3 linked regions of the Homo sapiens genome follow. The protein of the gene in region 2 interacts with the protein of the main gene of each other region in a pairwise test. Each region holds a gene or a part of one and is shown on either strand. Other genes may lie near its edges.

Evidence for each region.
Region 1: the proteins of LRRC8E (region 2) and TRIM3 interact in binary tests that used the Homo sapiens proteins (3 or more experiments, as listed by UniProt).
Region 3: the proteins of LRRC8E (region 2) and SAMD4B interact in binary tests that used the Homo sapiens proteins (3 or more experiments, as listed by UniProt).

What each region holds. Positions count from the first base shown.
Region 1 is NC_000011.10:6,449,845-6,456,949, forward strand, and holds part of TRIM3 (tripartite motif-containing protein 3), read right to left. Parts: coding exon 6,453-7,105; intron 6,332-6,452; coding exon 6,228-6,331; intron 2,279-6,227; coding exon of another isoform or gene 2,030-2,278; exon of another isoform or gene 1,595-2,029; coding exon 1,427-1,594; intron 1,217-1,426; coding exon 1,048-1,216; intron 778-1,047; coding exon 707-777; intron 1-706.
Region 2 is NC_000019.10:7,884,183-7,891,509, reverse strand, and holds the start of LRRC8E (volume-regulated anion channel subunit LRRC8E), read right to left. Parts: upstream 3,001-7,327; 5' UTR 2,910-3,000; intron 1-2,909. UniProt on the Homo sapiens protein: Non-essential component of the volume-regulated anion channel (VRAC, also named VSOAC channel), an anion channel required to maintain a constant cell volume in response to extracellular or intracellular osmotic changes.
Region 3 is NC_000019.10:39,338,388-39,345,513, reverse strand, and holds the start of SAMD4B (protein Smaug homolog 2), read right to left. Parts: upstream 3,094-7,126; 5' UTR 2,938-3,093; intron 1,390-2,937; exon of another isoform or gene 1-1,389.

The sequences.
Region 1 (7,105 bases), on a different chromosome or scaffold from region 2:
CTCACGGTCCAGGCTCACATCATTTCTCATCTGGATCACTGCAAAAGATTGATCTTCCTGTCTCAGTCTTGCCTCAGCCTGAGTGATCTAAGACACACAGGACTGCATCACTCCCCTGCCTGCAATCCTGTGACTCCCCATAGCTCTTGGGAGGAGAGCAAGCCCCTTAAGGGGGCACACAAGCCTCACTCTCAGCTTTCACGGTCCCCTCCTCAAGCTGAGTCTGAACTACTTGTGATTTCTCGAACACACTATTAAGGTTCCCACCTTGCATTCTTGGCTCTTCCTGTGTCTTTTGTCTCAAACACTCTCGTCCTCCTCTGCCTTCCATTTAATTCCCACTTGTGCTTGAGGTCCTCCTCATATAGTCTTTCCTGAATCATACACTTCTGTATCCCTTCCCACAGTTCCCTGCACCTTCCTATCACAGAATCTATTACATCATATTGTAATTTTTTGGTTACCTTTTTCTCTTCCCTACTAGACTATAATCAAGAAGACACAGAATACATTTGCTTTGTGCATCACTGTATCTCCAGCTTCTAGCATACTGCCTGGGACAAAGCAGCCATGCATAAATGTGTAAATGTGTATTGTTTGAGTGAATGATCTCAAAGGGGAAAAGGAGGAGGTAAAATAGAGAGGAGTCTTGTGGAAGAGGAAAGGATGTTGGGACAGTGGTCACGGAGGGAGGGAAGACACTGACCTTCACTGAATGGTTATGGAAGTCCGTTACTACAATTTCATTCTTGTTGTTCACAGCCACAAAATGGGGCCCTGAAAATACAAAGTGGTCTTCAGGGCAGTAAGCTGGGATGCTGAGTGGGATGGGGAAGAGTATCTGGGAAGATAAAAGCTAGGGTGTTAGGAGAGGGGTGGGGTCTCCAGGACTGAGACAAATTATTTCTGAGATGATAGGGCTAACGTAAGGGAAGTGGGATCTCCAGAGCCAAGATATAGGAGGAGAGGGCCTTTACAGCTGGGGTATCTAGGGGAGTTCTCTGGAACAGGGGTATCAGCATAGATCTTGGAGCTGTCCCCCTATACCTGCAAAGTGGCGGTCAGTGGCCCCACGGCCCCCAAAACGGCCAACCAGTTTGCCATTGGGCTGGAAGGTAAAGACGCAGCAAGACTTGTTGTCGACCACAATGATATGTCCATTCCGGTCTACGGCCACTCCCTTGGGGCCCATGAGGCGGCCAGCTCCAATCTTGGTCTGGAGGAAGAGAATATCCATAAGAGGCTTTATTCTGACAGTGGGGAAAGTAGTCCTAACCCAGTACCAAAGCAGAATCTTGGGCTGGGGAAAGAACAGGGAGTAGGAGGAGGTAGGATTGGATCAGTCCAGACCCTGACCACCAAGAGGCACTAGACTGGTCAGTTCAGCTGGACACCAGGGTAAGTAAAGTGACAGCAGGCCTCTCACCTTGAACTTGCCCTCAGGGGAGAAGATGCTGACCCAACGGTTGTCATAGTCTGCCACAATTATGTCTCCATTGGTGTCCACTGCCACACCTGTGGGGCGCTGCAGCTGCCCAGGTGAGCGTCCTCGGACCCCAAAACGGAACTTGAACTGGCCCTCATTGGAGAAAACCTGGAGCAGAGGAGCAAGGGGAGGGAGCAGGTAGGAGGGGAGACACTGTGGGCACAGACAGAAGGGAGTAGGATCCTGAGGGAGGAGACCCCCCCACCACCATTTATTCAGTCATTCAACAAGCACTTACTGACAAAATCAAACATGGCAGCAGGTCTGGGGCAATGCAACAGAGATATGAATGGGATTGTGAGAACATGAAGGGATGAAGGGGAATGGTGAGAAAAGGCTCCAAGAGAAGAAGATGTCTGAACAAATAGCCTAATGAGGATGCCACATAAACCAAATTCGGCCAGGAAAGGAAGAGGAAAGGCATTCAAGCAGAGTGAACAGATTGTAAAAGGCACAAAGTCCAGTATGGGCACCACTTGAGGACTTGTCCAGTGTGGCTGGACTGCAGGGAGCACCCAGGTGAACAAAAGAAGGAATTATGTTTTATCCTGGGTGTAATGAGGAGTTTCTTAACATTTCTAGGCATAGCAGTGACAAGATCAATTTTGCTTTTAAGAAAGAACATTCTGGCTGTAGGGAGAAGTCAAGACTACAAGCTAGCTGCCCAGTCAGAGGCTGTTGCAGTATTCCAGTTGAGAAATGATGATGGCTTGGACCAAGGAAATTGGCTGGAGGGACGCAGATGGACTCAAGACATATGTAGGAGGTAGGCTCATGAGACTTAGTAGCAGACTGGAATGGGGTAGGTGAGAGAGGAGAAAGTATACAAGAATTAGTCCATTCAGGCTATGGGGCTGACAAGGAAACCTTCCTCCTACACAGAGTGAACCTTTCAACCTCTCCCTTCTCCAACCTCCTCTAATTTAGCTGCCCAATATGCTCAGGTCTCCCCATCCCAAAAGCACCTCCTTTAATCCTCCTTCCCACTTTAGCTAAGCTTTCTGGCTTTTCCTTCATAGTCAAAACATTACTCACTACATAAGTCTCATACACTCTGCTTTGTTATAGGCTCTGGGGACACAAGATGAACGAGAGCCAGGAGCAGCCTTGGAGAACTCAAGTTCTGGGCATTGGCCTTGCTCTTGGATTCAAATCTGTGCCTTCCTTAATGGACTGGTCTCCCCGCCCCGGCCCCACCCCAACTCCATCTCTTAGTCCTGCAGGGCTGTTTAAACTGGTCCCACCAACAGGCATCACTTTCTTCTAATGTGGACCTTCTACTAAGCTCTTCTCTGGCTGACCAGCACAGCTCTTGGGTTCTGCAGTGGTCCCCTGTGGCAGGACAGCACTCATCAGTATGAGAAGGGAGATACCATGAGCTCCACGAGCTAAATAGTAGAAGTGAGGGGGCACTAAAAGGTACAGTTTAGCGGTGAGGTAATGCCCCTCCAGTTTGAGCAGCTCAGGTTCTGGCTCAATACTGATGAGGCTTTGGGATGTCTTGTTCTTCCAGTCCCAGCCTATCCCACCCCTGACACCTGGCCAACTCTTACTCATCTTTCCATTCTTAGAATTTCCAGGTCACTTTTTCAGAGAAGACTAATGACCAAGTACCACCCTCCGCCCTACCAAATCAATATGCACATATAAACTTAGGTCACCAGGATATATGCTTTACAGCTCTCTTCATAACAATTATCACTTTGCAGCTAAATAACTGTTAAATATCGGTGTCCCCTTCTAAGGATGTAAGCCTCGCATGGCATAAGGACTGCATCTGTTTTGTTTGCTGCTGCACTTGCAGCACTGATATGGCATTTGGCACATAGTAGGCATTCAACAAATGAATGAACTCCCCAGCTCAATCTCAGACCTGAACTGGACATCTCCACTTGAATGCCGCATAGCTATCTCAAACATCTGCAAAAGTGAATTCATCAACTTAAACCTGGGCCTGCTCCTGAATGGCAACACCATCTACCCAGTCCACAAAGTCCTGCCATTCTTGACATTTGACGATTTAGCAAAATCTGCCATTCTTGCTTCCTTAATATCTCTAGAATCTGCTGGTGTCCTAGTTTGGTCCTTAACATCTCTCTCCTATACCATGGTATCTGAAAGTAGATCCCTGACTTCAGGGATCTCACAGTCTAGTGGGGGAGAAAGACTTAAACCAAAATAAAACAAAACAAAACCAGACAAAAACAAAAACAAACCAGTGATTCCAGTAAAGTATGAAAAGTACTATAGCAAAAGGCTGAGGGAACTGAGAAGAATGTGATTTAACATTCTGCCTAAGGGAATGAGGGAGTTTTCACAGAAGAGCTGATAAAACTGGAAGCTTAGACAATTACACAAGGACATAATATATACAAATCAAATTATTAATTCAGAATCACAAAATGTTTTTTGTCTTCTGTCAACTGATGCTGGTTCCACTCAGTGAGGTCTGCCTCATCCTCCACCATAGAAGTGTCCAAAAGAGAAAACGGTCATGTCGTGAGGACCCCAATCCCCATGTACTGAGAGGAGGAGGGGGATCAGACCTCATCAGGGAGCCCAGCCCATGCCAGCCCTAAGGACTCCAGAGTAAGAGAAGCAGAAATTCAACTTAGAAATCTGAGCCAGGCTCCTAGCAGTGGCGACATAGAGGGCAGGTGGAAGTAGAAGCAAGAGGAGGACTGCTATAGAAGTAGCAGGTGTTTGGAAGAGAGTGGAGCTATACCAGGTGTTCCCTCTCAATTCCCCACTCTGAAACAATGGGGAGGCCAGGTGCAGTGGCTCATGCCTGTAATCCCAGCACTTTCAGAGGCCAAGGCAGGAGGATAGCTTGAGCCTAGGAGTTCCAGACCAGCCCAAACAATATAGTGAAACCCCGTCTTTACTAAAAATAAAAATAAAATAAAATAAATTAGCCAGGTATAGTGGCATGCGCCTGTAGTCCCAGCTACTCGGGAGGCTGAAGTAGGAGGATTGCTTGAGCACAGGAGGTCAAGGCTGCAGTGAGCTGTGATCATAGCACTGTACTCCAGCCTGGACAACAGAGACCCTGTCTCAAAAAAAAAAAAAAAAACTATGAGGAAGTTCAGCCCCCTCACCAGGACAGACAAAGTGGCACTTGTTTTTCTGTGCATGTGAGCAGTGAGCACACCTGTGTGTGTGCACAACAGAGAAGGGGTCCCAAATCTCAACTTTTATGCCAGGAAGCATTCCCAGCCTAGGGAGTTGGAAAGGAGCTGGAAGGTGTAACTGAGTAGGGAACTGAGCACCACCTCATTACTCCCCCGCAATCCCCTCCTCACTATCCAGGCTGGGCCCAAATGCCTTCCTGTGCTGCACAGGGCCTCTCCATTCCTCTGCTCTTAGAAATAGGGTAGGAGTAAAGGACGACTGGACAGAACTGGGAATATGGCCACAGAAGAGTCCCTTGCACTTTTAGACTGTTAGGTGAAAAGCAGGGGTCAGAGAGTAGCCGTCACTGAGGGAAAGGACCTTAGCAGAGCTGGATCGATGACATGAGTACTCAAGCAGGGTCAGGAAGTTTAAACGTATAGGTGTTTAGAAGTAAGGATCTTCAGCGAAAAGTTTTGCTACCCAGTAAAATGTTTCGAAGAAGTAAAGTGCATGGTAGTTAGAAACAATCCCCTATAGGATAAAATCAAAATTCCACACTCCATCTCCAAAACCAATTACAATCTGACCTCAGCTACCCCTGGCTTCTAATAGTAATCTACCTCCAGGCCTGCTGGGCTCCTTCCAGTTCCCTGAACCACCTCCTCCAGCACTTTCCCACCTGCTTGCCTTTGTTTACAGCCTCCACCTGGACGATGATATTTTTAACAATAGCTAACATCAGAAGTTTCACTAGATGTCAAGTATAGTACATCATTTAACACTCCCCGCAACCCTATCAGATATACTTTTCCTAATTTTACACATGAGTTAACTGAAGCTCAAAGAGGTCATGTGACTTGTTAGTATGTGACAGAGCTAGGATTCAAGCTCAGGTGTCTGGTTTCAGAGCCTGAGCTTTTAACTGCTCTGCTGTGTCAACTACCCTGGTGCCCACTGTACTAGGCTCTGAGCTTTTACTACAAGAAACAGAGGGAAAAAAAGGCACATTTCCTGGCTTTGAAAAGGAGCTCACAGTGCAGCAGAAACCATGTTCATTCAGTGCGGTTGATGCCATAATCAGGTGTATGAGGTTATGGGAGAGGCAGTGGGAGGACCACCTGCTACAACTTCTAGCCACTGAAAGATACCCCCTTTGGCCAAGATACCCCTATGCAACTGTCTAGCCAACCTGATAACTGCAGAGACTCCAGACAGACTACATACATTCAGGAGCCAGGCATGCATGTTGGAAGACACGGAGGGCAGGCCACCAGGAGAAAAAGGGAGAAAGTAAGAGGCTCAAGGAGAGGCAGAAGGAAAGGAGGAATGAGCCAGATCTTTGCAGTCCAGGAGCTGACCTGCCCTAAGCCATGGCCTACAAAGTAGAGGCTACAAGCATAGTAAACTCTGGTTTCTGACTGAAGGTGCTGGTTACAGTTGTGGCCTATGGGAATGGGGTGGCTGGTGGGTGCGTAAGGGGTGATCCTTTGATTCACTGCTCTTAAGGAACGGTACTATCTGTAGGGTTCCATCTTCCAGGAGGTGACCTGTACATTCTATCTTTTCAGTAGCCTGTAGCTTGAAAACTCTTATTTTGGTGGTGGAGGAGAGCGGTAAAGGTGCTTACCTGAATACACTGGTTGTTGCTGTCTGCTACCACGATGCGGCCGCTGCTGGCTGCGGACACACCTTGTAAATTGGTGAATTCACCTTTCTCCCTTCCACGACTGCCTGTGGGAAGGGACAGGAGGGAAAACAAAATAATTCATTCAGAGGTCATCTTGAACCTCCCTTCCCTCCCCACCCACTACCTGAGCCTGGCCCATCTGGCTCTGCCCTCGGCTGTCTGTACCAACACGGAAGACGAGCTCATCCTCAATTGGGTTGTCCTTTCGTTTGCCGCCTGTGCTGTACATGGAGCTGGGCCTACGCACTGCCTTCTGGCGCACATGGCTGCCGGGGCCGCCAGGGGACTTGACACGGCGCTTCACATCGTCCGGGGAAGGTGGCAGGTCCCCCGGACGCAGGGCACGCACGCGGAAGGGGCTGCCGCGCACTGGCTGTCCGTAGAGCAGCACCGAGAGGAGCAGCTCGCCTTCCGTGCGCGCTGTGTACACTAGCTCATATGTGCCATTCTTGTGGTCCACCACTGGCACCGGAAGGCGCGTGCCGTCCGGGCCGGTGATCTCTGCACGCAGCTCAGCGCTGCCTGTGCGCACCAACCGCCCGTCCTTGTCTTTGGTAGTGACAGTGAGCGAGGCAGGCTGGCCCACTAGCGCCTGGCGCAGGCCCTCTCCCGTGGCCACCGTTTCGTGTGCAGTGGCGCTCGTGGTGAGCAGTGCGCCCAGATTGAGCACCGATCGCCGCAGACCGTCCACCTCAAGGACCAGTTCCAGCTGTGCATTCTCATGTGGCCGCTCCGGGAAGGCCTGTGCCGCCAATGCAGCCAGCCGCTCTCGCATGTGCTTGCGCACCAGCAACACCTCCGGGGCCGAGCCCAGGCGC
Region 2 (7,327 bases):
CTTCCTGTCCTTGCCACCCTGGTGTAAGCTCCACCAATAGCCATCCCAGGTGCACAATCGCAGACAAGAAGGCAGCAACACTCAGGGGACCGGGGGGCAGCCACAGGGGCTATCATTATCTGTCTCCATGACTCAAACTTGATCCTCACAAACCTGCCATTAAATTTCCACAGACATAAAATAGGCCCCCACTTTGTCTGAGCAGGGCTGGTGGGAAGGTCCAGGAACAGGGGCTCGAAGAATTGGGGCAGAGCCAGGGAAAATAAAACGATGGGACGTATACGCTCAGCTTTCTCCACCAGACACTGAATGCCTCATTTTATCCCAACCCAGGCAGCGTGGATGTCGGAGACTTTGCTTTCCAGACTCAGGGGAGAGAAATAACTTGCTCAAGCTTCTACAGTTCCAAGCGGCATTCGAAGCCTGACCCATCCAACCTCCAGGTCCTGCCTGTAGGATTGCAACTGCTCTGTTCCCTCTTGGGAGACAGCCTCTAATTAAAATGCAGCATCTTGCCAGGCACGGTGGCTCACGCCTGTAATCCCAACACTTTGGGAGGCCAAGGTAGGCAGATCATTTGAGGTCAGGAGTTTGAGACCAGGCTAGCCCAACATGGTAAAACCCCATGTCTACTAAAAATACAAAATTAGCTGGAGTGGTGGTGGGCACCTATAATCCCAGCTAATGGGGAAGCTGAAGCAGGAGAATCTCTTTTTTTTTTGAGACAGAGTCTCACTCTGTCGCCCAGGCTGGAGTGCAGTGGTGTGATCTCGGCTCACTGCAAGCTCCGCCTCCCGGGTTCACACCATTCTCCTGCTTCAGCCTCCCGAGTAGCTGGGACTACAGGCGCCCGCCACCTCGCCCGGCTAATTTTTTGTAATTTTAGTAGAGACGGGGTTTCACTGTATTAGCCAGGATGGTCTCAATCTCCTGATCTCATGATCTGCCTGCCTCGGCCTCCCAAAGAGCTGGGATTACAGGCGTGCGCCACCGTGCCCGGCTGAAGCAGGAGAATCTCTTGAACCCAGGAGGTGGAAGTTGCAGTGAGCCGTGATTGCGCCACTGCAATCCAGCCTGGGCAACAGAGCAAGACTCTATCTCAAAAAACAAACAACAACAAAAAAACCACAGCATCTTTGCCAAAAGCACCTAAGAGCGGTGTTGCATTGTGGCAGGCCAGGCTGGAAGGCTTTCCAGCCTGAGACCATGTGGCTCCCACCAGCCCTGGCTCCATCCACCCATGCCTCACCCCTCCTCCCTCCCAGGTCCTCCTCAAGCCACTTGCCTCCAAAAAATGTGGTGATGAGTTCCTGCTGGGGGAAGGGTGGGAGAGTGAGACCCTCCACACCCACAGCCCATGCTAAGAGGCAGGGAAGAAGCAAGAAACATCCAGCAGTTTTCAGCCCTAAGAGGGGTTTTGTAGAAAACAAGGCCCAACCTTTTTTTTTTTTTAGACATAGAGTCCTGACGGACACAGTGGATCACGCCTGTAATCCCAGCACTTTGAGAGGTTGAGGCAGGTGGATCACGAGGTCAAGAGATCAAGACCATCCTGGCCAACATGATGAAACCCCATCTCTAAAAATACAAAGATTAGCTGGGTATGGTGCCACATGCTTGTAGTCCCAGCTACTCAGGAGGCTGAGGCAGGAGAATCGCTTGAACCTGGGAGGTGGAGGTTGCCGTGAGCCAAGATCGTGCCACTGCGCTCCGGCCTGGCAACAGAGCAAGACTCTATCTTGAAAAAAAAAAAAAGAGAGAGAGAGAGAGATAGAGTCTTGCTCTGTCACCCAGGCTGGAGTTCAGTGGCACGATCATAGCTCATAGTAGTCTCGAACTCCTGGGCTCAAGTGATCCTCCTGCCTCAGCCTCCCCAGTAGCTGGGACCACAGGTGCGTGCTACCATGCCCAGCCAACTTTTAGATTTTTTGTAGAGATGGAGTCTCGCTATGTTGCCCAGGCTGGTCTTGAACTTCTGAGTCCAAGCAATCCTCCCACCTCAGCCTCCCAAAGTGCTGGGATTACAGGTGTGAGCCACTGTGCCTGGCCTCAATCTTTTTTTTTTTTTGAGATGGAGTGTCGCTCTGTTGCCCAGGCTGGAGTGCAGTGGCCCAATCTCAACTCACTGCAACCTCCACCTCTTGGGTCCGAGCAGTACTCAAGCCTCAGCCTCCCCAGTAGCTGGGACTACAGGGACACGCCACTAATTTTTGTATTTTTAGTAGAGATGGGGTTTCACCGTGTTAGCCAGGCTGGTCTCAAACACCTGACCTCAGGTGACCTGCCCACCTCGGCCTCCCAAAGTGCTGGGATTATAGACGTAAGGCACGGTGTCCGGCTGAGCCTCAACCATTTATGCAAGGGAGAAACTGAGGGTCTAGGGTGGGGGAGGGTGGCATCTTTGTAGCCCGTCCTGGGTCAGGCCCCAGGCCTGCGGATTCCCAGCCGAGTGGTTTTCCAAGCCGCCTCTGCCAGCAGACTTGAAGATCTGGGACATGTGTAAGTTCAAGAGCACCAGAGGTCAGGCTTGGTTGAACCCACCCCAAGTGGTAGGTTCTGGAGCTCTGAGAGTCTCCCGGGGATGAGTTGTCAATGTCTTCCCAGATGCCAAGGGGAGGGGAAAGTGGTTGAGACCCCCAAAGTCAAGTTTATCTTCAGCCTGTTTATCTTCACTCTGAGACTTGGCCGCGTCTGCCTGGCTCCCAGGACGGGCACCTCGTGGGCCAGGTTTCCCTTTGCACCGGCCGGCACCCCCACCCCAGCTCCTGGTGTGTCGGGACGGCCTGCCCCGGCCACAGGGCCGGCGCACCTGGAGCGGCTCTGCCCCTTGTCCAGACCCGGGGACTCCCAGCCCGACCCCCACCCTGCCACCTCGTGGGGTGTCCAGAGGCAAAGAGCCACCTACTCACCGTTCCGGGAGGGACGCTGGGCCCAACTCCTGGGTCTCTGGGAGCGGAGCTGCCGCGACTCCCGCAGAGTTCCCGGGCGGGCCGCGAGGGTGAGTCAGGGCAGGCGGGGACAGGAGACCCGGAGCCGCCCCGCCCCGCCCCCGGACGACTCGGCCCCGCCTCGCCGCAGGCGCGCCCAGGTCGACCCTACTCCAGGCGCCGCGCGATCAGCAGGGTTGGGGGAAGACAGCCGTCTTAGGCTGCTTTGCCCTGGTGGGCTCGGGGCTGGCGGGAGATGCAGGGGTCTTAGAACTTTGCAACTTTGCAGTCTGGCTGGACCCTGGCAGCTGGGGAAACTGAGGGAGCTGGGGACGCTGAACTCCCAAAGCCATTCTACGGCCACCTTTCTGGGAACCAGGTCTTACGGACCCTGTCGAGAAAATGTGGAGGCCGGGCTCTGTGACTCACGCCTGTAATCCAACACTTTGGGAGGCCGAGGCAGGAGGATACCTTGGGCCTAGGAGTTTGAAACCAGCCTGAGCAATATAGTGGGACCACATCTCTACAAAAAATTTTAAAACCTACAAAAACAAAATTTTAAAAATTAGCCAGGTGTGGTGGTGTGTGCCTGTAGTCCCAGCTACTCTGGAGGCCGAGGTGGAAGGATCACCTGAATCTGGGAAGTTGAGAGGCTGCAGCGAGCTACGATCATGCCACTGCACTCCAGCCTGGGCCACCAAGAAGGACCCTGTCTCCAAAAGAAAAAAAAGAAAAAGAGGAAGTGCGGAAGGGCTCCTTCTAACCCCGCAAGGCCCAGTCACCTGGCCTTAAAGCCCAGCCAAGGCACAGGTGACTGCAGTTTTCAGGTGCTGGGAGTGGAGTTGCGGGAGGAGAGGACGGGGAGGGGACGGCTTCTCCCTTCAAGCTCTGGCCATGGGCGGGAACTGGGCTGAACCAACGGAAGTTGAGTAGAGTGGGGATGCCCTCCTGTCTGTCCCTGCCCAACACTGTGGTCTGCCCTCCAGGTGGGGAGTGGGGCACAAGCAGCTCCGAAGTCCTGGGGGGCCCAGCTTCTCTGCCTCCCCACCCCCACCCTGGCCGCCCCACTTGGGAGGCCTGAGCTGGGTCTTAGATGAGCAAATCTGTGGAGGTGGACCTTGATCTGTTCTCCGTCTGAAAAACCTTGGAGGCCGGGTGCAGTGGCTCACGCCTGTAATCCCAGCTCTTTGGGAGGCTGAGGCGGGTGGATCACGAGGTCAGGAGATCGAGACCATCGTGGCTAACACAGTGAAACACAGTCTCTACAAAAATACAAAAAAATTAGCAGGGCGTGGTGGCGGGCGCCTGTAGTCCCAGCTACTCAGGAGGCTGAGGCAGGAGAATGGCGTGAACCCAGGAGGCAGAGCTTGCAGTGAGCCGAGATTGCGCCACTGCACTCCAGCCTGGGCGAAGAGTGAGACTCCATCTCAAAAAAAAAAAAAAAAAAAAAGATAAAAAAAGAAAAGAAAAGAAAAACCTTGGATGTATCTATGGCCATACCACCCTAAAAGCATCTGATCCTCGTCTCACCTCGCAAGCTAAGCAGTGTCGGACCTGGTTAGTACTTGGATGGGAGACCACCTAGGAATACCGGGTGCTGTAGGCTTGGGCTGGTCACAGTGGCTTACACCTGTAATCTAGCACTTTCGGAGGCTGAGGAGGGTGGATCACCTGAGGTCAGGCGTTTGAGACCAGCCTGGCCAACATGGTGAAACCCTGTCTCTACTAAAAATACAAAAATTAGCTGGGTGTGGTGGCTTGTGCTACTTGGGAGGCTGAGACAAGAGAATCGCTTGAGCCTGGGAGGTGGAGGTTACAGTGAACTGAGATTGCACCACCCCACTCCAGCCTGGGCGACAGAACAGGATTCCATCTCAAAACAAAACAAAACAAAACCAAACCATCCATGGAAATGTTCCTACCTGGACTTAGGATGGGAGACGGAGAGTTCTCCCTGACAGGGTAAAAGAAGCCTTGACTTGGCCGGGCGCGGTGGCTCATGCCTAGAATCTCAGCACTTTGGGAGGCCGACTCGGGTGATTCACCTGAGGTCAGGAGTTCGAGTCCAGCCTGGCCAACATGGTGAAACCCCATCTCTACTAAAAATACAAAACATTAGCTGGGTGTGGTGGCACAAGCCTGTAATCCCAGCTACTTGGGAGGCTGAGGCAGGAGAATCGCTTGAACCCAGGAGGCGGATGTTGCCGTGAGCCGAGATCGTGCCACTGCCCTCCAGCCTGGGCAACAAGAGCAAAACTCCGTCTCAAAAGAAAAAAGAAAAAAAAAAAAGCCCTGACATTGACCAGGTCTGGGCCTGCGACTGGAAACCTCTAGGGTTGGAAACTTGTAAGTCAGGGACCTTCTGGGCACCGCCACAGGGAGTCCAAAGACAAAACTTCCTTTTGGATTTAGTAGAGCTTTAAGAGCACCTGTTGTCTGTCGGCATCTGCAGCTTCCTTGCAGGACAAGACCAGCAAGGCTCTCTACTCTCTGAGAGCTTCTGTCCTAGTGGGTGGGAGAGATACACTAAGTAAACTAATAAAGGAGACCAGGTGGGGTGGCTCACGCCTTAAATCCCAGCAGTTTAGGAGGCTGACCAAGGTGGGTGGATCGCTTGAGCCCAGGAGTCTGAGATCAGCCTGAGCAACATAGTGAGATCCCATCTCTACAAAAAATAAATAAAAATGATAGAAGAATTAGTCAGGCGTAGTGGCACGCACCTGTAATCCCAGCTACTCGGGAGGCTGAGGGAGGAGAATCGATTGAACCCAGGAGGCGGAGGTTGTGGTGAGCCGAGATTGCACCACTGCACTCCAGCCTGGGCAACAGAGTGAGACTCCGTCTCAAAAATAAATAAATAAGTAAATAAAAATGAGCTGGGTGTGATGGTGTGCACCTGTGGTCCCAGCTACTTGAGAGGCTGAGACAGGAGGATCACTTGAGCCTGGGAGTTGGAGGCTACAGTGAGCCATGATTGCACCACTGCACTCCAGCCTGGGTGGCAGCTCAGAACCTGGCTTTTAAAAACAAAACAAAACAAAAGACAAACGGAAGAACAAGGTAATGCCAGTTTGTGACAAATGTTGTATATATAACAAAGCAAGGTGAAGCGGTAGCAAGGGACAAGGGGTTCCTTGAAGACCGCTTTGAGGAAGGGACCTGTGAGAAAGGTTGTCTCTCCTTTGGAGTGACTCTTCCTGTCTTCCTTCCTTCCTTCCTTCCTTCTTTCCTTCCTTCCTTTCTTCTTTCTTTCCTTCTTTGTTTCATGGAGTTTTGCTGTTGTTGCCCAGGCCGGAGTGCAATGGCGTGATCGCTGCTCACCGCAACCTCCGCCTCCGGGGTTCAAGCAATTCCCAGCCTCAGCCTCCCGAGTAGCTGGGATTACAGGCATGCGCCACCACTCGGCTAATTTTGTATTTTTGGTAGAGATGGAGTTTCTCCACGTTGGTCAGGCTGGTCTCGAACTCCCGACCTCAGGTGATCTGCCTGTCTCGGCCTCCCAAAGTGCTGGGATTACAGGCGTGAGCCATCGCACCTGGCCTTCTTTTTCTTTCTTTATTTTTTTGAGATGGAGTCCTTGCCCAGGCTGCAGTGCAATGGCACGATCTGGGCTCACTGCAACCTTCGCCTCCTGGGTTCAAGCAATTTTCCTAACTCAGCCTCCAGAGTGGCTGGGATTACAGGCGCCCACCACTGTGCCTGGCTAATTTTTGTATTTTTAGTAGAGACAGGGTTTTGCCATGCTGGCCAGGCTGGTGTTGAACTCCTGCCTCAGCCTCCCAAAGTGTTGTGATTACAGGTGTGAGTCACTGCACTAGGCCTTCGCCTTCGCCTTCTCCTCCTCCTCCTCCCCCTCCCCCTCCCCCTCCTCCCCTCCCCCTCCCCATCTTCCTCCTCCCTCTCCTCCCCCCTCCTCCTCTCCCCCTCCCCATCTTCCTCCTCCCTCTCCTCCCCCTTCCTCCCCTCCCCCTCCCCATCTTCCTCCTCCCTCTCCTCCCCCTCCCCCTCCCATCTTCCTCCTCCCCCTCCTCCCCCTCCCCCTCCTCCTCCCTCTCCTCCTCCTTGCCTTCCTTCTCCTCCCCCTCCTCCTCCCCCTCCTCTCTCCTTCCTTCCTTCCTTCCTTTCTTTTCTTTCTTTCCTTTCCTTTTTCTTTGCCCCTCCTCCTCCTCCCTCTTTCCCCTCCTTCTCCTCCTCCACTTTCTGTTCTCCTCCTCCTTCTTCTCCTTCTCCTTTCCTCCTCCTCCTTCTTCATTCTTCTTTTTTTTCTCCCTCTGTTGCCCAGGCTGGCATGCAGTGGCATGATCCTAGCTCACTGCAGCCTTGAACTCCTGGGCTCAGGTGATCCTCCTGCCTCACCCTCCCTCCCAAGTAGCTAGGTCCACAGGCATGCACCACCACAT
Region 3 (7,126 bases), about 31 Mb from region 2:
AAGAAACAGATGGACAAGAAGAGATGGATATGTGTGTTCAAAGAAGCAGCAATTTAAAGAAGCACCAAAGGCTGGTAGTGGGCTGGAGGGGTAGCCAGAAAGAGAAAGCACTGAGGAAGATCTGAAAAGAAACCATTCAAAAGTAGAATCGGAAATAACTGCTCAGAGGATGGAGTAACCTTGTGGAGAAGCCAAGATCCTTTCAAGGTAGGTAAGAAATCTTTCTGGAGGATGGGTACTTCATAAAGGGGATTCCTAGGAAACAGGAAAGCAGCAGTGGGCAGTAGGGCACAGAGGCATACCCTGAGGCATCTTTCAGGGGGCTTTTAGTGAGGAAAAGGAAATCCTCCTAAAGGGCACAGGTTCTCAAACTTGCGTGTGCATCAAAATGACCAGGAGGGTTTGTTAAAAACTCTTGATTGCTGGGCCCTGCTCCCAGGTTTTCAGTTTCAGTAGATCTGAGTGGGATTCAAGAATGTGTATTTCTAACAAATGTGGCTGCTGCTGGGCCAGGAACCACACTGAGAACCACTGCTATAGGGGAAGGGATTATTTGGTGAGGAGGTCCTCAAAGGGGAGAAGGAAGAAGGCTTCTGAAAGGGAAATGGGGAGAATCCTAAGTCTCTAAGGAGGGTGTTAAGGGTCTCTTGATCTCTGAAGGGAAGAGGGGTCTATGAGCATGGCACCTAAGAAAAATGGTCTGAAAGAAAGATCTCGGAGCACTGGGATTTCAAGGGGGCGGGGAAAGGTGTCTCTCAAGAATCTTTACAAGGAAACATAGAGGCTCTTGGGCAACGAGTCTGGAGAATGTTGGGGACCTCTGAAGGGATAATGGGAAAAGGGGGCCCCCTGAGAAAGGTCTCTGAGTTGACTTCAGAGGAAAGAGAATGGGGAAATGAGAGGGTGTAAATAGCAATTCTAAAGTTAGTGGGTAAATCTGATAGGGTCCTAAATAATGTTTCTTGGGGATGTCAGAAGTGGAATCTGAGGGAAAGTTCTGAGGAAGTCTCAGGAAGCGCTGGGAGTGGGTGGCTGATGGAGGGCAATTTGGGAGAAAATTCTCTAAAAAGTGTCTGAGGAAGGTGTGGTCTTCTGAGACTGGTCCTGGAGTGGGATGACAGAGGGATGTTTTTAGGAAAAACTCTTCAGAGATCTCAGTTGAGGAGAAAGCTGAGTAAAGTCTCCAAAAGAGTATATGGGGAAGGCGGGGTCTTCTGAGAGAGTGTCAGAGGAGAGGGTTTTTCAGAAAGAATTATAGGACTTTCTCAGAGCAAGAGCTCGGGTTATTTTGGGGGAAAATTAGGTGTGTGTGAGGGTCTTCTTCAAGGGATTCTAGAGGATTTAGGGGACCTGTGTGAGCAAGTTCAGGGAGGGATATCTCTAGAAAAGTCCCTTAGTAAGGCAGAAGTATTGATTCAAGGGGTTCTGGTGGTGTCAGGAAGGTCTTGGAGGGATTTCAAGAACATACGTCAGGAGGGCTCCAGGGGGTCGCTGGGGTCTCTAAGCTGTGTGTGTGTGTGGGGGGGGGGGGTCCTGAAAACCTGCATATCAGAGGGGTCACCAAGAGAATCTTACGGTCTTACAGGGGTTGTGAGGAGGATCTTCAGAAAATTCCTCTAAAACCGGTCTGCAAGGGGGGATTCTGAGGTGTTAGTGAAGGGGAGTTCTACGGGATCTGAGAGAAAAACCATGAGGAAAGTTTTCAGGATCCTTAAACAATTTTTGGAGCGTGTGATGTGGGGGACTGGAAAAGATGTGGAGTATGTAAAAGGGATTTTGGAAGAAGCTTTTGGAATATGATGCTGAGAGTCCTCTGGAGATTTCAGGCAATTGCTGGAGATTTTTAGAATGAGTGGGGGTGGGGAAGGGGATCCCGGTGAAGATCACTGGGCTACATGAGGGTGATCTCTAGGGCATTTTAGGGTGGTGAGACCAGGGGGAGACAGGAGGCCTCTGGGGGAGACTTTTGGGATCTGTGGAAAGGTCCAGAGGGATACGTGAAGGGGGAGTGTGTATGAGAGATGGTTGCAATACGGTGGGGAGGGGGATGGAGTCTTCTAGGTGAGTTTTTGGGATCTGGGGGCATTTCACAAAGTCTGTGAGGAAGATTTATTTTGGGGATATGGGAAGGAGATCTTCAGGGAAGATGATCACGGTCCGTCGGGGGCATTCTGAAGGACTTCTGGGAGGGGGAATCAGAAATGCAGGGGGTATGAGCGGAAAATCTCCAAGGAGGTTTCTGGAATGGGGTAAGTGGGAGGGAAAATTCTTAGGATCCGGGAGGGGGAAGTCGGGTGAGCCTGTTGGGCTGTGAGAGGCAGGGCTCCGGGGGAGAGTTCTGGAATGGACAGGGGTCCGGAGGGAGCCTTGGGGAGGTGTGCAGGGCTCGTGAGGGAGGCTCCTGGAGCAGCTATGAGAGCCACGCTGTGGAATGGACGAGGAGTGGCCTCCGAGGACTATTTCTGGAGACAGGAGGAGGACGGGGGCTTCGGGGCCAAAGGGCGGGGGTCTGCGAGGAAAGCTGCTGGGACCCATGAAGGGCTCGAGGAGGCGACTCCACGGGAGGGGTGGGTTTTGCGGGGACCTTTCAGGGCGCACACGGGGGATCGGCAGGCTTTCCGGGGCTCTCCGAGGGGGATGTGCGGGGGGTCCTGAGGAGAGGCCCCCGGCCCGGCCCCTCGGCAATCCCGAGGGCATGAGAAAGATTTCGGAGGGAAGCTTCGGCCAGGGCCCAGGAGGGAGACTGGGGACGGGCGCGGGGCTTCTCCCGTGGGGCCCGGCCCCCCGAGGCCCGCGTTCCGCACCCGCCCGCCGCCGCCGCCCGCGGTTCGGGGTCCCTGAGGGGGCGGGGCCGCCCGCGCGGCCTGGGTCGCCCTGAGGGGAGCCCCGCGCGCCCCGACTCGCCGCCGCCCCGCGCCGGCCCGGCCCGAGACTCACCGCCTCGGCCTTCGCCGCCACCGCCGCCGCTCGGGCCTCCTCAGGCCACCGCCGCCGCCGTCGCCCCCTCTCGGGCCCGCAAGCTCCCCTCCCTCCTCCCGCACCGACCACCGCCGCCGCCGCCGCCGCCGCCGTCGCGCTGCGTCACCGCGCCGTGCGTCACCGCCCCTGGCCCCGCCCCGACGGGGGCCGCCGCGCGCCGGCATTAGCTCACGCCCGGGTGACGAACGGCGCGCCAGCCAACGGGCGGCGAGGGCAGCCCGAAGGGCGGGAGGTGTGAGCCGAGTAAGGCGGGGTCGCGGCGAGGGGGGAGCGACGGTGGTGGAACGGGGCCCAAGAGGCCCGCCCCCTCCTCGGCGGGATTGGTCGGACGTGGGGGTGACGGGCAGTCGGCCAGGCCTGGGGTTTGGGGCTGGGGGGCGGGGAAGGGGCGGGGCGCGCGGGGCGTTGCCCAGGGCAACGGGCCCGGCGGAGTCTGAGGTTGGGCCTCCAGGCCCGCAGGGGGCAGGCTCGCGCGCGTCCACCCCAGCTGCCCCGAGCGAAGTCACAGTTCCTGATTCAGGCGTTCCAGGCCTCCTCTTCCCCGCCCCTTGGGTGGCCCGCCTCACCCAAGGCTGTCCTCAGTGGGCGTCTGCACTCGGGCTTCTGGGCGCTCGGCTTTCTCATCGCGCTGTTCTCAGCCTTGCCGCTTGCTCTCTCCGATGGGAATGGCGAGGCGAGATCTAGCCTTTAGGGTGGGAAGAGAATGCACAGAAAGCGCTAAGGATCAAGGAGGCTGTCAATAAACGGGAGTTGTTGCTGTGACTTTGGTTGTGATCTGTGCGTTCCACAAACTGTATTGGGTCCGGGTGAACTAATCAGAGGGACCTGTGTTCAGAAGGCTCTCGGTGACAGAGATCTGGCTTGTTACAGGCACTTAGAGAGGCAGTCGGGATGGAGGGTCGAGTTGAAGACAGGGAGGGGTGAGGAACGAGCAGAGGCCAGTTGTTTGGCCACTTGAGGGAGTTTGGACTTGTCCCGAGGGCACTAGGGAGCCGTGAAGGGCTTCAAGCCGGGGAGGATCATGGTGAGTCTGGGGTTTTGGAGAGATGTCTCTCTGGCTTATACATGGAGGGCGGATTGGAGGGAATGAAACGGGATCGGGAGTCCAGGGAGGCAGCTGGGGGAGGGGGTGGGGAAGAAAGAGGGGGTTTGCACGAGGGAGGGACTGTGGGGAGGGAAGGAGGTGCAGGTGGGAGGGACGCCCTGGAGGCAGAGCGAACGGGCCCTGACACTGGCTGGCTATGGAGTGGAAGGGGGAGAAAAGTTTAGGACCAGGCCCCTCTAGCCGGGAGACTGGGCGCCAGAAGCAGGTTGGGAAGATACTAAGCCCAATGTGGATGCCTAGTAGCGAGGTCCAGGAGGTGCACAAACCCTGGGTCTGGAGCTTAAGGGAGAAATTGAGGCTGGAGACCAAGATTTAAGGATCGTCAAAGATGGTAATTGAGGCTGTGGGAGTTAGGGGTCTAGCCCGGGGAGGGTATGAAGGGTCACTGGAGACAGGGACTGAACAGAACCCTGAAACAGAGAGGCAGGATTTGAGCAAAGGAATTGACGCTGTCGATGAATATTGCAAAAGGCAGCCAGAGAGAGGAAAACCAGGAGAGTGTGGCATTATAGACGCTTTGAGGAAAGGCTGTTTCACCAGGGTGGGGCCATGTCACAAACCCCATCCACTACCTCCTGCATTTAAGCAACAGCCTTCACACTGCATAGAATTATTGTGCTCATTAACTGCTGGTTCATTAATTCATTCAATAATATTTCTTGACTATCTAATATGTGCCAGGCTCTGCTTAAGGTGCTAGAAACACAACAATAGGATGAGCGCGGTGGCTCACACCTGTAATCCCAGCATTTTGGGAGGCCGAGGCAGGTGTTCGAGACCAGCCTGACCAACATGGTGAAATCCCATCTCTACTAAAAATACAAAATTAGCGGGGCGTGGTGGCACATGCCTGTAGTCCCAGCTACTTGGGAGGCTGAGGCAAGAGAATCGCTTGAACCCGGGTGGCGGAGGTTGCAGTGAGCCAAGATCGTGCCATTGCACTCCAGCCTGGGCAACAACAGTGAAACTCCGTCTCAAAAAAAAAACAAAAAAAAAACAAAAAGACTTACATTCTAGTTCTTGGGGACACAAACAATAAGGAAATACAGTGTAACTTCGTGATAAGTACCAAGGAGAAAAAGAAAGCAGTGGCTGGGCATGGTGACTCATGCCTGTAATCCCAGCACTTTGGGAGGCTGAGGCTGGTGGATCACTTGAGGCCAGGAGTTTGAGACCAGCCTGGCCAAAGTGGCAAAACCCTGTCTCTACTAAAAATGCCAAAAATTAACTGGGCATAGTGATGCGTGCCTGTAGTTCCAGCTACTCAGGAGGGTGAGGCAGGAGAATCACTTGAACCCAGGAGTCGGAGGTTGCAATAAGCCGAGATTTGCCATTGCACTCTAGCCCAGGTGACAGAGCGAGACTATGTCTCTAAATAAATAAACAAATAAATAACAAGAAAGCAGCTAAGGGAATGGAGTAATGCAGCCAGAATTAATTTACATGGGGAAAGGCCTCTTTCATTAGGTGAGACTGAAACAGAAATCTGAAGGAATGAAGGAGAAAGTGGGTTCCAGAAAGAGAAAACAGCAAGTGCAAAGGCCATGTAGTAGGATCATTCACAGAACCACAAAGGGGCCAGCATTGCTGGAGTGGAGTGAGCAAAAGAGGGCAGTGAAGGACAAGGTCCAAGAGGCAATGGGGTAGGGGTGGTGACAGATAACTTAGTATTTTAGTCATTGTTGGTGTGTGTGTGTGTGTGTGTGTGTGTGTGTGTGGGGGGGGGGGGCAGGGTCTCACTCTGTTGCCCAGACTGGATTGTAGTGGTGCGATCGCGGCTCACTGCAACCTCGGCTCACTGCAACCCCTGCCTCCTGGGTTCAAGTGATTCTCCTGCCTCAGCCTCTGGAGTAGCTGGAACTACAGCCGTATGCCATCAAACCTGGCTAAGTTTTGTATTTTTAGTAGAGATGGGGTTTCACCATGTTGCCCAGGCTGGTCTTGAACTCCTGGACTCAAGTGATCTGCCTGCCTCGGCCTCCCAAAGTGTTGGGATTACAGGCGTGAGCCACTGCGCCTGGCCTGCTGTTTGGTTTTTAGAGATAGGATCTTACTCTGTCACCTGGGCTGGAGTGCAGTGGTGTGATCCTAGCTCACTGCAGCCTCAAACTCCTGGGCTCAAGTGATCCTCCCAACCTCAGCCTCCCAAGTAGCTGGTACCTGGGATTACAGACACATGCCACCATGCCCGGCTACTTTTAAAATTTTTTTGTAGAGACAAGGTCTTGCTATGTTGCCCAGGCTGGTCTTGAACTCCTGGTCTCAAGCAATTCTCCTGCCTTGGCCTCCCAAAGTGCTGGGATTACAGGCATGAGCCACTGTGTCTGGCCCATGGGAGGGTTTGAGACCAGCCTGGCCAACATGGTAAAACCCTGTCTCTACTAAAAATACAAAAATATGGCTAGGCGCGGTGGCTCACACCTGTAATCCCAGCACTTTGGGAAGCTGAGGTGGGCTGATCACGAGGTCAGGAGTTCGAGACTAGCCTGACCAACATGGTGAAACCCCGTCTCTACTAGAAATACAAAAATTAGCTGGTTGTGGTGGCGCACACCTGTAATCCCAGCTACTCATGAGGCTGAGGCAGGAGAACTGCTTGAACCTGGGAGGTGGAGGTTGCAGTGAGCCGAGATTGTGCCACTGCACTCCAGCCTGGGTGACAGAGAGACACTCCATCTCAAGAAAAAAAAAAAAAAATTAGCCGGGTGTGGTGGCTCACGCCTGTAATCCCAGCTACTTGGGAGGCTGAAGTGAGAGAATCGCTTGAACCCAGGAGGCGGAGGTTGCGGTGAGCTGAGATGGTGCCACTGTACTCCAGCCTGGGTGACAGAGCGAGACCCCTGTCTCAAAAAAAAAAAAAAAGAAAAGAAAAAAAGAAAACCAGGCAAGTGTGGTGTCATGAAGACGATGTTTCAGGGAACAGGGAGTGATGGGCTGTGTCAGATGTGGCTGAGGAGGAGTGAGAATTGACCATTAGATCCAGCACCGTGGAGTGCATGGGTGACCTTGACAAGGGCATGTCAGCTGAGAGGAATACAGGTG